Linked DNA regions of Homo sapiens: region 1 is reported to be linked to region 2. The links are microRNA targets in miRTarBase. Many come from high-throughput screens and were not tested one by one. Region 2 holds a microRNA gene; the other region holds the end of a gene's coding sequence.

What was found. The annotated mature microRNA hsa-miR-302a-3p reads UAAGUGCUUCCAUGUUUUGGUGA and lies in region 2 at 4,616-4,638, shown strand. An mRNA with a match to its seed (bases 2 to 7 or 8) in the 3' UTR can be bound and repressed. Matches are read on the target gene's strand: a 7mer-m8 pairs with bases 2 to 8, a 7mer-A1 pairs with bases 2 to 7 and ends in A, and an 8mer does both.
Region 1: the mRNA of ANKS4B is a reported target of hsa-miR-302a-3p. Seed matches in the 3' UTR shown: 7mer-m8 at 2,145-2,151 and 7mer-m8 at 2,887-2,893.

The regions. Positions count from the first base shown.
Region 1 is chr16:21,249,888-21,257,011 of GRCh38, forward strand. It overlaps ANKS4B (ankyrin repeat and sterile alpha motif domain containing 4B), which reads left to right. Exons shown (of 2, transcript NM_145865.3): 2 at 1-3,963. The coding sequence ends at 933. Among named protein-coding and RNA genes, the nearest start is that of ANKS4B, 20 kb to the left of the region's middle.
Region 2 is chr4:112,645,824-112,652,823 of GRCh38, reverse strand. MIR302A (microRNA 302a) reads left to right here and starts at 4,573; the gene lies at 4,573-4,641. It overlaps LARP7 (La ribonucleoprotein 7, transcriptional regulator), which reads right to left. Exons shown (of 13, transcript NM_016648.4): 3 at 6,373-6,473; 4 at 6,153-6,236; 5 at 5,869-6,033; 6 at 5,697-5,790; 7 at 5,275-5,625; 8 at 4,990-5,134; 9 at 3,138-3,289; 10 at 2,242-2,363. It overlaps MIR302CHG (miR-302/367 cluster host gene), which reads left to right and starts at 2,773. Exons shown (of 3, transcript NR_146092.1): 1 at 2,773-2,832; 2 at 4,225-4,311; 3 at 5,856-6,104. It overlaps MIR367 (microRNA 367), which reads left to right and starts at 4,883; the gene lies at 4,883-4,950. It also overlaps MIR302D, MIR302C and MIR302B. RefSeq lists an enhancer at 3,231-3,953.

The sequences.
Region 1 (7,124 bases), not on the chromosome of region 2:
AGGGAGCAGAATGAATGTGTTGCTCTCCTGGACAAGGCTGCCACTGCACAGAACATCATGAACCCCAAGAAGGTCACCAGGCTGAAGGAGCAGGCTCAGAAGAATGCCAGGAGGCAGATCAAAGAGTGTGAGAGGCTCCAGGAGAAGCACCAAAATAAGATGGCCCACACCTACAGCAAGGAGGAATCCGGGACTCTCTCTTCTTCCAAGGGTACCTTCTCCAGATCATCCCCTTCAAATGCTTCTGCTCCTGGCACATTCGGGTCACTATCTAAGGGCATTAAAGACACTTTCAAGATCAAGTTCAAGAAGAACAAAGATACAGCAGAACAGGTGGGGAAGGAAGGCAGAAGTGGGCAGAGGAACGTGATGGAAGTGTTCAGAGAGGAAGAGGAAGACTCGTTCTCAGGGGACTTCAAAGAGAAGCTCCAGTTGTCAGCAGAGGAGGACGGCAGTGTGCACCATGAATCCATTCTCAATCGTCCAGGTCTAGGAAGTATTGTTTTTAGAAGGAACAGGATATCGAGTCCTGAAGACATCTCAGATAGCAAGAGAGAGTTTGGTTTTAAACTGCCCAGTGAATTGCTTCAAAGACAAGGAGCATCAGAGGCTGATGAGGGTGCAGCTGATGAAGAGGGAGAGGAAAACGGCCTCAAAGATGATCTGCCGTGGGATGACGATGAAGTGGAGTGGGAGGAAGATGTGGTCGATGCCACGCCCCTGGAAGTGTTCTTGCTGTCTCAGCACCTGGAAGAATTCCTGCCTATCTTCAAGAGAGAGCAGATTGATCTAGAAGCTCTGCTGCTCTGCTCTGATGAGGACCTTCAGAGCATACAAATGCAGCTGGGTCCCAGGAAGAAAGTTCTGAATGCTATCAACAGGAGGAAGCAGGTGCTTCAACAGCCTGGGCAGCTGGTCGACACCAGCCTGTGATGGAGAGTTTTGGCCTGGAGCATTGGGGTGATGCTGTGGCCCGCTGGCAGCACTCCAGGCGGCACCCCCTCTTTACCCAATGCCAGACCACTGGGAATGGATTCTAGGGCATCGGAAATGCCTACCTGAGAGAGAGACCCAAACTTTACTCTGGGAGGTAGGCTATGCCCATCCAAATAAATCTCCATGAGAAACTTGAGGAGACTTCATAACAAGAATCTGGCATTTCTCTTCAGTTATCTTATATGTACATATAATTGTTTTTGTGGTTGTTTTGTTTTGTTTTGTTTTGTTTTTTGGAGATGAAGGTCTCAGTCTCTTACCCAGGCTAGGGTGCAGTGGTATGATCATAGTTCACTGTATTCTCAACCTCCTGGGCTCAAATGATCTCCTCCCACCTCAGCCTCCCAAGTAGCTGAGACTACAGGTTCACACCCCCCACACCTGGCTTATTTTGTATGTTTTAGTAGAGGTGGGGTCTTGCCACATTGCCCAGGCTGGTCTCAAACTCCTGGCCTCAAGCAATCCTCCCACCTCAGCCTCCTAAAGCACTGGGATTACAGGTGTGAACCACCGTACCCAGCCTATCTTTTTGATACTTTTGAATAAAGAAAGGGTCATATGCATGACAGGAAAATGAAAGAAACTTCCTTTACTTTTCTATCTCTGGATTTAAAATTATAATCTCATCACATTATCCTGCTGCTTGCTTTCCGATCTGTGTAACCTGGGAATTCCAATTCTTTTTCTCTCCTGAGATCTATGACTTTGCCTAGTGGTAGAGACTAGAGTTCTTTCCTGGCCTGCGGCTTGATGCCCAACTTAAATGCATCTAACCCTTTAACAAATGTGTACATGTTTACAAGTAATGGAAATGCGTCTATAATACTCCTGCCTGAGAATAGAGACAGAGTGGTGGTGGGGAGAGTGAAGAAAGAGATAGAATACAGGTGGTACCTGTTGTGGACTGAATTGCGTCAAATTCATATGTTGGAGCTCTAACCCCTAATGTGACTGTAATTGGAAATAAGACCTTTAAAGAAGTGATTAAGGTTAAATGAAGTCATAAGAATGCAACCCTAATCCTGTAGGACTGGTGTCCTTTTTTTCCCTTTTTTTTTTTTTTTTTGAGATGGAGCCTTGCTCTGTCACTCATGCTGGAGTGCAGTGGCGTGATCTCAGCTCACTGCAACCCCCGCCTCCCAGGTTCGAGCACTTTTCATGCCTCAGCCTCCTGAGTAGCTGGGATTACAGGCGTGCACCACAACGCCTGGCTAAGTTTTTGTATTTTTAGTAGAGGCGGGGTTTCACCATGTTGGCCAGGCTGGTCTCAAACTCCTGACCTCAGGTGATCCACCTGCCTCGGCCTCCCAGAGTGCTGGGATTACAGGCATGAGCCACTGCACCTGGCCTAGGACTGGTGTCCTAAGAAGAGGAAGAGACACTTAGGTGGAAGGCACACAGAGAGGCCACGTGAGGACACAGTGAGAAGGTGGCCGTCTGCAAGCCGAGGAGGGGGCCTCAGGAGAAACCAACCCTGCAATCACCTTGATCTTGGGCTTTCAGCCCCCAAAGGTGTGAGAAAATAAACTTCGGTTGATAAACTGCTGTTGTTGAAGCCATCCAGTCTGTGGCATTTTGTTATGGCAGTCCTAGCAGAATAATACTGTCCTAAGTAAGAGGGTTGGGGAGGAGACCAAGAAAAATACAGAAAAAAAGTCTGTCCAACTGCAATTGATGAGTTTTGTAAGGGTAAACACCTAGTGAAACTTAAGGGGAAAAAAAACTAAGTTCTTTGGAGGGAAGATTTGATTGTCAAAGGAAATTTCACATTTTCATGCTTATTATGTACACATGGTTTATTTACTGTTGTCTGTCACCATTGCCGCATATCTGAATATGTGTAGGTTCCACGATAGAAACTGACAACACTTGGCTCATGCCTGTAATCCCAGCACTTTGGGAGGCCCAGGCAGGCAGATCACCTGAGGTCAGGAGTTCAAGACCAGCCTGGCCAACATGGCGGAAACCCGTCTCTACTAAAAATACAAAAATTAGCCAGGTGTGGTGGCGTGTGCCTGTAATCCCAGCTACTTGGGAGGCTGAGGCAAGAGAATTGCTTGAACCCAAAAGGTGGAGGTTGCAGTGAGTTGAGATTGCACCACTGCACTCTAGCCCAGGCGGTAAGAGAGACTCCATCTCAAAAAAAAAAAAAAAAAAAAAGAAAAAAGAAACTGACAACACTGCTGCTGACATTTTTTCAATGGCAATCCCAAATTCAAACTGAAACCCCACTGAAGAGCTAAGCTTCATTAGATCTCTACAGGCTGACTTACATCAAGTGGAATTTACTGTTGATTCTGGGTATAATACAGAAACAGCTGTTTATCTTCAGCTTGCTTTCTGATGCACATCTGTTTGGGTTACTTCAAGAGGCATCATGGAGGATTCAAGTTTAGGGAGGATACAGATGCTCAAATCTGATGAACAATTGGCTTATTCTTCCTCAATGAATATATTCAGAAAGCTTGTTAGCCATTGAATAAACACGTTGCATTAGGGGATGATTGTTTACAAATACCTTATCTTGTGGAATAAACTGAAGTTGTGCTTTCCTTCATTAACGTGCACAGAAGCAGTTGGCAAATAGAAAGTGCTCAAAAAAGTTTGTAGTCTGTGCCTGCCACTATTATATTTCATCATCATAGATGCCAGAATCCCCTCTTCACCTATTGCCCGGAATCTGCCTAATGAGATATTTGCTCCACCCCCTGCTGTAACTACATCATAGCAAGAGAGCCATCACTCAGGTTGGTAGAAATGAACTTGAACATTGACTCTCATCCCTTTTTAGGAGATATTTGCCACTAGGGGTCTCATCAGGTACCTCTATGCTCTTCTTAGGGGTTCTTTTCTTTTATGATTGACAGAATTAATAGGTGAGCGTTCTCCAAAGTTCTCAGCATCAAGGATATAGTCTCTTCGTCACAGAGTATTGTTATATAATAAAAAAAGGTTTATACCATGTTATAAGATGTTATCAATGTTCTAAGAATTCCAGATCTTTCGAACTAAATACCAACTACAGGGGCTAAGAGAAGATGCCAGAGCAATACAAAGGCCTTGATAAGAGACAAAGACAAGAGGATTATGAGCCAGGATGAGCTTCAAGTACTCACTGATCTCAGACCTCCATCTCTTAAACTAGATGCTTAGAGTAGCTCAATCCAATATCTGGTCACCCCTACCACCTCCTGGCCCCTCTTTTCCCCCTCTATGTAGCTTGACATAAAAGTCAACAAGAGGGAAAAGCAGCTGGGAGCATTTCACCGAAGAGGAGAGTTTGAGAAGTTATAGTGTGGTAAATGTGTATTGTGCTTATATTTCAGGCCATTGTGTAGTACAGGTCAGTTATATGCTCAGAATTCCTAAGTCCAAGTTACCAGCCCAGACCATTGCTTTGGGCACCAAATACTTAAGCCCAAATCTAATCTGACATCTCCTCTCACATGTCTCACAAGTACCCCATACTCAGTGTGTCCAGGACTGAACCCATTTTCTTCCAGGTTGTCAGTTCTCAACTTGGATGATTTTGCCCTCTGTCTCCTAGAGGACATGTGGCAATATCTAGAGACATTTTTTGATTGCCATGATAGGGGAACAGTGGTGCAACTGACATCCAGTGGGTAGAAACAATGGGTGCTAAACATCCTAGAATGTACAGGACAGCCCACCACCACAATGAATTATCGAGACCCAAATAGTGATCGTGCTCAGTTTCAGCTGCATTAAAACATGCAGCTCTAAATCTTCATTTTTCATAAATGGAAAATTTAACCCAATACTTCTTTTCATCACCCAATTGGTCACCAGGCCCTTTCAACTTTTCAATATGTCTCAGAGCTAAATCCTCTTTGATGTTTGCAAGATGACCTATTGGTTCCTGCCCCCAACCATCACTCACTGGATTGCTGTAAGTATCCTTATCTGTCTTTAATTCATTCTCCACAAGGCTGGTTGAGTCACGTAATCTTTTTAATATGTAAGTCTCTTGTCACTTTCTACTTTACTGTTGCTTTTTTTTTTTTTTTTTTTTTAAGACGCAGTTTTGCTCTTGTTGCCCAGGCTGGAGTGCAATAGCACGATCTCAGCTCACCGCAACCTCAGCCTCCTGGGTTCAAGTGATTCTCCTGCCTCAGCCTCCCAAGTAGCTGGAATTACAGGCATGTGCCACCAAGCCTGGCTAATGTTGTATTTTTAGTAGAGACAGGGTTTCTCCATGTTGGTCAGGCTGGTCTCGAACTCCCGACCTCAGGTGATCCACCTGCCTCAGCCTCCCAAAGTGCTGGGATTACAGGCGTGAGCCACTGGGCTCAGCCACCATTGCTTTTCAAACTCTCACCACCACACAGAAGGCCTGCATGATTAAAGAGCCCTATTCTCTCCTCCAAACCTCTGGTCCCATCTCTGACCACTCCTCTCCCTGTCCCCTAATTTCAGCTATACTAGATTTCTTGTGGCTTCCTGAATACATGTCTCTCATATGCCTGTGCCTTAGCATACCATCACCCTTCTGCCTGGAAAAGTCTTCCTCCATATAGCCATCCTCACTGGGAGACATACCCTCTCTCTTTGCCCCTAGTCTGGGTTGAGTAGCTTCCTATCTGTGCAAGCTCTCTTTGTTTGCCTCTCCAGAACTTCTCTCTACTATTTTCCAACCTACTTTGTGTCCCAGGTGGTTGGGCTCTGGACTGCATCAAAGGGCTCCCTTGCCCTTGGGATCCTGGTTGGGTCTGGCCAATGGGAGTTACTAACAAGATACCAGAAGGTGGGAGAAAGAAAGATTGAGGCATTTATTCTACCTGTTTCTTCTTTTCAGGGCAGCAGCTGCCTTCATCTAAGCTCACCTCTCCCATCTGGCAGCCCTCTGCTATAGCTCTAGTTGTTTCTGGGTTTCACTAACTGCTCTTTCAAGCTTAGCAGTGGTAGTGATTTCCTACTATTGCTAACCCTGGGGTGCTTCTTCCTAAACAGTCTCTTTATTCTCTTCAATCACACCTTTTGAGTGTGGCATCTACAGACAGTTCCCCACTTACAATCGTTCAACTTAAGATTTTTTGACTTTACGATGGTGTGAAAATGATACGCATTCAGTAGAAACTGGTAAGATATTCTCTCAGGATGCTGGGCAGAGGCAGCGAGCCACAGCTTCCAATCAGCCATGTGATCACCAGGATAATCAATTGACAGTGAACAGTGTACCGTGTTACCAGATGATTTTGCCCAAATGTAGGCAAATGTAAGTGTTCTGAGCACATTTAAGGTAGGCAAGGCTAAGCTATCATGTTTGGTAGGTGTTTTCTATGCATTTTTGACACATTTCCAACTTTTTTTGAGACAGGGTCTTGCTCTGTCAACCAGGCTGGAGTGCACTGGCACAATCTCGGCTCACTGCAGCCTCTGCCTCCTGGGTTCAAGTGATTCTCCTGCCTCAGCCTCCTGAGTAGCTGGGACTACAGGTGTGCACCACCACACCCAGCTAAGTTTTGTATTTTTAGTATAGACGGGGTTTCACCATATTGCCCAGGCTGGTCTCGGACTCCTGACCTCAGGTGATCCGCCTGCCTTGGCCTCCCAAAGTGCTGGGATTACAGGCATGACCCACCATGTTCGGCCACATATTTCCAACTTTTGATGAATTTATTGGGACACGACTGCATCATAAGTCAAGGAACATCTGCATTTCCTGCAGGGACCCTGAACCATGTTCCTGTAACACCAAATTATTGTAATTTTTTTTTTTTAACATCTGTCTTCTCTTCGAGGCTGTGTTCTCTGGGGCTGAGGACTACTTTTCTGTTGTATCTTAGTAAGCTAGCACAGGGTTATGATAGGGGCTCTTGCGAAAAGAATGAAAGAAAAGATATATGAATATTCTCATCATTCCATGCTCTTCTCTATATATCCTTTAGGGTAGTGACCATCAGGATTCCTCAGAAAGACTCCATAGTCACTTGAGATATGCAGAATCAGATCATGTGGGTAATGTGGGTATTTTGTTTCAGCACAAAGACCCCTGTCCAGACAGTCTGGCAAATATGATAAACTTTTGGCTAAACCATCTGGAGCATGAGTCCTTCCCAGGAGGAGTATGGTCAGGAAAACAGAGCCATGCTTTGCTGCTGACTTAT
Region 2 (7,000 bases):
AATATTCTATAAGGACAACAGATTTATAGAGCAGAAAGCAGAAATAGTGTCCCCCAACCCCCAAATCAGGAAGCGTTCACATCTGGGAGTAGTATAAGGAATAAAATTAAAAAAAAAAAAAAGGATTAAGGGAGGTTTGTTTTTACTCACCTGTAGAAAATCACTATGACTTTAAAATATGTGTACAAATCATTCCACTTTTAATAACAACTCATGAAAAACAGTTTAACCAAACCTAAAATACTAGATTTCCACATTGTTCAAGAGCTCTTACTTTCTGAAAAAAATACCTAAGTAACCTCTTCTAAACAAGTTGTGGTCACCCAGCAAGGAAAAGTTTTACCTACACTGCCTGCTGTGAGGGCAAATTAACCAGATTCCTGCATTCTTAATCAACTTTTTTTTTCACAGCAGGTTTTACAGAGTATACAATGCATTTATGCAGGAATGTTACACTAATTCCTAATTCATCAACTTCCATTCATAAAGCTAAAGAAGTAACTGGAGATTGCTAAATGGGGGGGGGGGGGAAATCTTATTTATCTTGCCTCCCTTTCGTTTTGACCTAAAATTTCAGACATAACTAATTTACATTACTTTCAGATGTTGAATTTTTAGATGTTTGAATTACGGAAAGAACTGAGCAATACCTGGAAGTATTATTTCATCATAGAATAAGAAAAGTTTATCAGTTAATAATAAAAAATATATAATAAAATCTGTGAGTTTCTAGAAGCCAGGGACTAGATCTTAACTCATCCCAACACTCAGCAACTATCACAAAACAGGCATTTAGTAACTGTTTGCCAAATTAAAAAAAAAAAAACTGCAGAGACTTACACTTGCTAGTCCTTCCCACTTCTTTACCTAGTTAATTAGTACCAAATTTAGATATAAAGCAAGTAAAAAACTCAGTATTGTTGAAATTTGAATGCATTCAGTAGTAGTAATGAGTTTTATAACTGACTTTTGAGCATATTCAATTACTACAACTCAAAAGATATATACTAAATATCCATTATAATGTCAGGCTAATCTCTTGATTTAAAACCCTTAGAATTTAAAACCCATAGAATGACAAATTAGCCTGGTAATCACATGGGCAAGTCACAGACAGTTGTAACCAACACAGCTCAGTTTTTGTTTCAGCAAAATGTAAGTAACTACTAACTGGATTAATGCAGGGATTGATTTTATGATTTTGATGATCATAAATGATGAATTTGTAATTGATAAAGTTACCCTTTAAATAACAGAAGTTATTTAATGAGTTGATTAGAAATAACTCTGAGCAATTTTTGTATTAAATGTTTTGCAATCTGATTAATCAGAGCAGTATTTACATCCCTCAATTTTCAGCTGTCTCCTGAAATGCAAGCTGGTAATAGCAATTTGGATTTGGCCAAATCCTTCACCAACATTGCAAAGAGGATCAAAATTTGTTTCTTAGTGACAGCTATAGGATTGTAGGACAGTATTTCAGATAAGGAGGGCTTACAGATAAACAAACCACCACCTCAATGGTATTCAAGTTAAAACCTGTGACTGATGAGTCTACGTAAAACCAAAACAACATACTAAGTGATGATGAATGTCAGTATAAGAAAATACTTAAAATATGTGGTATGTTACAGAGCATTTCACACTTTTTAAAAAGAAAAGGATTCACTTAAATGGGTGACAGGCAGGGTAAGGGTAAATAAGATATGGTACTCTCACCTAAAAGTATATAATTTCCCTAATAGAAAGTATTGCTACCAATGTGGTATAAAAGGCTACAGAAGATAGACTGTATAAAGCGAAAAAATTATAAACCTGTATGTACAGCAATTTGTAGCGTAAATTATATAGAAGTATGGGTTTTTTGGCACATGCGTGAAAAATTTTAAGAGGTTTTCAAAAATATTTTACTTTTCTATAATTAAAATTTTAAAGATAATCAGCACATAGGTAATACAAAAAAAATCAGTGCCAATAAAAATAAGCAAAAGTTACAATTTTCCTATAGAGAAGGATGTTTAAACTGTGCTTACATATAGATTTAGTGAGGAATTTCAGCCTCTAGATTTTGCTTCAAAATTAAACCTAAGAGTTACCATGGAATTAAAACTGTACAGTAGTTTACCATAGGGAAACAAATTCTAACTTGATTTGTTTTATCTTCCATATTCAAAACATTTTCACACAGGGAAATAATAAGAGAAGAAAGGAACAAATACCCTAGGGGCTCAAAATCATTACCCGGACTTGTTTCCTGCCAGGTAGAGGCTCTGTGCTAATGATCTTCACAATCACTCCACTCACGAACTGTGGTCCTGTTGCATTAACTTTCTCCTGGGTGCGACACTCTTCCCTGTTGGCTGCTGATTAGAAAAGGAAAAAGACCAGGACTAAATCTCTTACACTTAACAACAATTTAATACTTAGGAGGACTACCTTAGAATAATTCCTGAGGCAGATTTAAATAATTTAAAACGTATTTAATTTTAAAGTAAACAATTAAAGGTTATATGTCATACTGCTTATTTCAAAATACCATGAATAAAACTCAGAAAGTTTTATTATTCTACATGCAAATTGTTACTGCTAGAAGAGCATTCGTAAAGCCTTTAAATTTGCCCCTTCTCCCTGAACAAAGGAACAGTAAATTTTTACTCAATAAAGTTAAAAAAAAGTTAAAGGATACTGTGTTTTAAATACATTATTATTCAAACGTGAACATTTATTTTTACAAGAAATGAGAATTTAAAATGTATCCTAATTTTGAATTCATAGGAATTCTGCTTTAACTTGTTCCTGCTTGTGGTGCATACTACAGAATGAAATTAACAGGTGAGAAACTACAATCTTCATTCCTACAAACTTGCTCAGTCTGCAAACTCTGCACTCATGTGCTTGATGAAAACTGTAGAGAAAACTCAGGTTATTTAAAAAATTGTTTTAAATGAGCCTTTTAAATATTCTTATATCAAGAGTAAGTAACACATCTGGATAACTTAACAAATCAAGAATTGTTCTAATAATGAAATAGAATAATCAAGTTTTTTAAAATTAAAATTTATCTTATAACAACTCAGAGATAGCATTTACATATATAAGTACATTATAATGTTGTCAAAACTATCAGTGATCTTTACTTTTTTCATTTTTCATTCCAGTGTTTTGAGGTACTCCACTGTCTGTTTCCATTTCTGACTCTGATTTTATTTGGGATATTGTTTTTTTTAAAGAAGCCATGCTAGCTTTTTGTAGCGCTAAATACTCTTTTTTCAAATCCATCCATTCGCTCCTACAAGGAAAGAAATGGTGATAACAGATGACTAAATATAAAAAGTAAATAGGGAAATATCTAAATATATACATTCACAATGACTTGGAGCAACTCCTCCACCAACTTTCCTGTTTCTTTAAACACATATTCAAAATATTTCCTAGGTTCTAAAGACATTTAGCAAAATAAGCTAAGGGAGTTCCTCTTCCCCCAATATTCAGATTAAATGTTTTAAGATTGCCAATTAAATTTTTGAGTGTCTGAAGTATTTTAATTTATAAAAGTAAAATTTTAGCATTAATTCCTTAACTAGTAACATTTACTAAATCAGTCATCTCTGTGGGAAAAGGGCGAGATTAAAGATTTGTTAAACTGCTTCCAATTTGAGAGATAACATTCCTTAGTATTTACTTGAATCAAAAAGAATTTCTAAGTAGAACAAAACACCCCGTGGAAGCAATCTATTTATTTACATACATTTAACATGTAGATGCTTCTTCAAACAGAGTTCCTCCAGATAGAAACACAATGCCTTTCTCGGCTCAGTGGGAGCACTCATTGTTACCCTAATCTATGCCATCAAACAAGCAGATAGGAGATTTTCTTTTTCTTTTTCTTTTTTTTTTTTAAGAGGAAGATATCTTGTGGTAATGGTTTTAGCTGTTAACATTGACATCTGTATACTTCAAAAAAAAAAAAAAGGATCCAGACCCACCCAGGATCATACATTCCCTGAGAGCTGATACATTAAAATAACAAAAGGCCCTTGTAATGATTCTCTGAGATAAAAAGGCAAAAGGAATTCAAGAGTTAAGAATAGTATAAATAGAAGTGGCTGAAGTCCCTGCCTTTTACCCTTCTGGAGGAGAACACGAATCTTTGGGAACTAGTTCAGGAAGGTAAAAAAATTTTTTTCTTCTAAAGTTATGCCATTTTGTTTTCTTTCTCCTCAGCTCTAAATACTCTGAAGTCCAAAGAAGTTGTATGTTGGGTGGGCTCCCTTCAACTTTAACATGGAAGTGCTTTCTGTGACTTTAAAAGTAAGTGCTTCCATGTTTTAGTAGGAGTGAATCCAATTTACTTCTCCAAAATAGAACACGCTAACCTCATTTGAAGGGATCCCCTTTGCTTTAACATGGGGGTACCTGCTGTGTGAAACAAAAGTAAGTGCTTCCATGTTTCAGTGGAGGTGTCTCCAAGCCAGCACACCTTTTGTTACAAAATTTTTTTGTTATTGTGTTTTAAGGTTACTAAGCTTGTTACAGGTTAAAGGATTCTAACTTTTTCCAAGACTGGGCTCCCCACCACTTAAACGTGGATGTACTTGCTTTGAAACTAAAGAAGTAAGTGCTTCCATGTTTTGGTGATGGTAAGTCTTCCTTTTACATTTTTATTATTTTTTTAGAAAATAACTTTATTGTATTGACCGCAGCTCATATATTTAAGCTTTATTTTGTATTTTTACATCTGTTAAGGGGCCCCCTCTACTTTAACATGGAGGCACTTGCTGTGACATGACAAAAATAAGTGCTTCCATGTTTGAGTGTGGTGGTTCCTACCTAATCAGCAATTGCGTTAACGCCCACACTGTGTGCAGTTCTTGGCTACAGGCCATTACTGTTGCTAATATGCAACTCTGTTGAATATAAATTGGAATTGCACTTTAGCAATGGTGATGGATTGTTAAGCCAATGACAGAATTTAAACCACAGACTTACTTTGATAGCACTCTTAATGGTATAACTTCTTCTCCCATTTTATGTCTCTCTTTATGTTTTTTCTTATGTTTCCTTTTTGTTTTCAAGAGAGAGCTATCTTTTAGATCTCCAGTATCCTTTTCCTCTTCAGTAGAGATTTCTATATCTTGAAATAAATAAAAAAGCTCTCCGTTAAGACATGGGGCTGTGAAATGGGTGAAACAGAAGCCAATTAAAACCTAATTAATTAAAAACTAATTAATTAAAATTAATTAGTTTTATCTAATTAAAACCTTGTAGTTTTACCTCTATTTTCCTTGGAAGCTTCTGATGCTTCCTTAATGATGTCTTTCTGAATAATTTTCTTTACTTTTGATCGGGGAGCTAGGGATTCTGCATCTTCAGAGCTGCTTCTCTTCCTCTTCCCTGTTCTGACTTCAGGTAAGCTAGATGCTTCAACTCTGTCCCGTTTTTTCTTTTTCTTTGAGCACTGCTTTTGGGGTTCAGTGGACTCAATGTCAGAGCCCTCAGATGTGGGTCTGGATCTTTTCATTTTACTGATGCTGGTGTTGCTTGTGTCCATGTTTTCTTCTTTGGCTTGGATATTGTCTTCCTTTTTCATTCGGCCTTTCTTCTTCTTTTTCTTTTTCTTCTCTTCTGTAAAAGTGCCATCATTATTAGTTCATCTTACTTCAACTACACCTATTTAAATATTGAAAAATACTCACCCACAACTCTTAAGGCTGGAATGGGCTTATTTTTCACTGTTTTAGGAAATATGCCAGGTTTTCTTGGTGCTTCTTCTGGTGGGTTGTTAAGAAACTGAAATGATTGCAAAAGTTACTATTTTAATACTTGTTTTCTTTTCTTTCTTTTTTTTTTTTTAGGATCTGGACTTACCTCAATTGCTTTTGCTGCTTGTTCTTTTGTTTCAAATTCCACAAACGCAAATCCCTTTGGATCTCCAGTAGACTTATAATGTGGTATACTTATATAAACAACATTGCCACATTTCCCAAATACTCTTTCAATCCAGCTGTGATTAACATTTTTGGGAAGTAACTCCTATTATAAATTAAAAGCAATATTAGAGTTTTTCACAATCAGAATGTCAATAAATTTTTAACTTAATTATATTGTTTCTGTGCCAGTTTCTGACTGGGGACCCGGGTTCTTAAGCTTACCACATACACTGTGCGTTCATCCTCATCCTTTGGTCTTTCCCCCAGAGGTTTTTTCCTCCGGATTCTGGTGCCTTCCAAATCAAGCTTTAAAATAGTATATTACATTAATAAAACTAATATTATTTATAATTGTAAGCTATAATCATATAATAATCATTACGTTAACATTCTTTATAATTATAAACTATAAATATAAACAGTAGTTATTCTTGATTCTTACCTCTACAACAGCTGAACTTCTCAATGCTCTGGCAATTAACTTCCCATCAGTAGTCAATTTTTTCATTTTGTTAAAAGACACAAGTAGTGATATATCAACATCTAAAGAAAATGAAAAAGTTAATATGTTAGTGTATCAGCAGGATTAATTCAATTTGGTACAATTTAACCTGCCCCTCAGGCCCTCAGGCTCGGTGGCTCATGCCTGTAATCCTAGTACTTTGGGAGGCCAAGGCGGGTGGATGGGGGAGTTCAAGACCAGCCTGGCCAACATAGTGAAACCCCATCTCTACTAAAAATACAAAGAATTAGCTGGGTGTAGTGGTGCACGCCTGTAATCCCAGCTACTCGAGAGTGAGGTAGGAGAATCGCTTGAACCCAGGAGGCAGAGGTTGCAGTGAGCTGAGATCACTCCAGCCTGGGAGAAAGAGACTCAAACAAAACAAACAAAAAAAAACTGTATGAGGGTCTAAATGGCATTGCATATTTGGCGACCTAAAATGACACATTTTAGTGTATGTAACTGCAGATTAAGATTTGAACACAAATTATTAGCAATACCCAGACATTCAAAGAGGACATCTGGATCCCATCCTATTAGAAACAAGCACAAGGTTGGCTATTTGAAA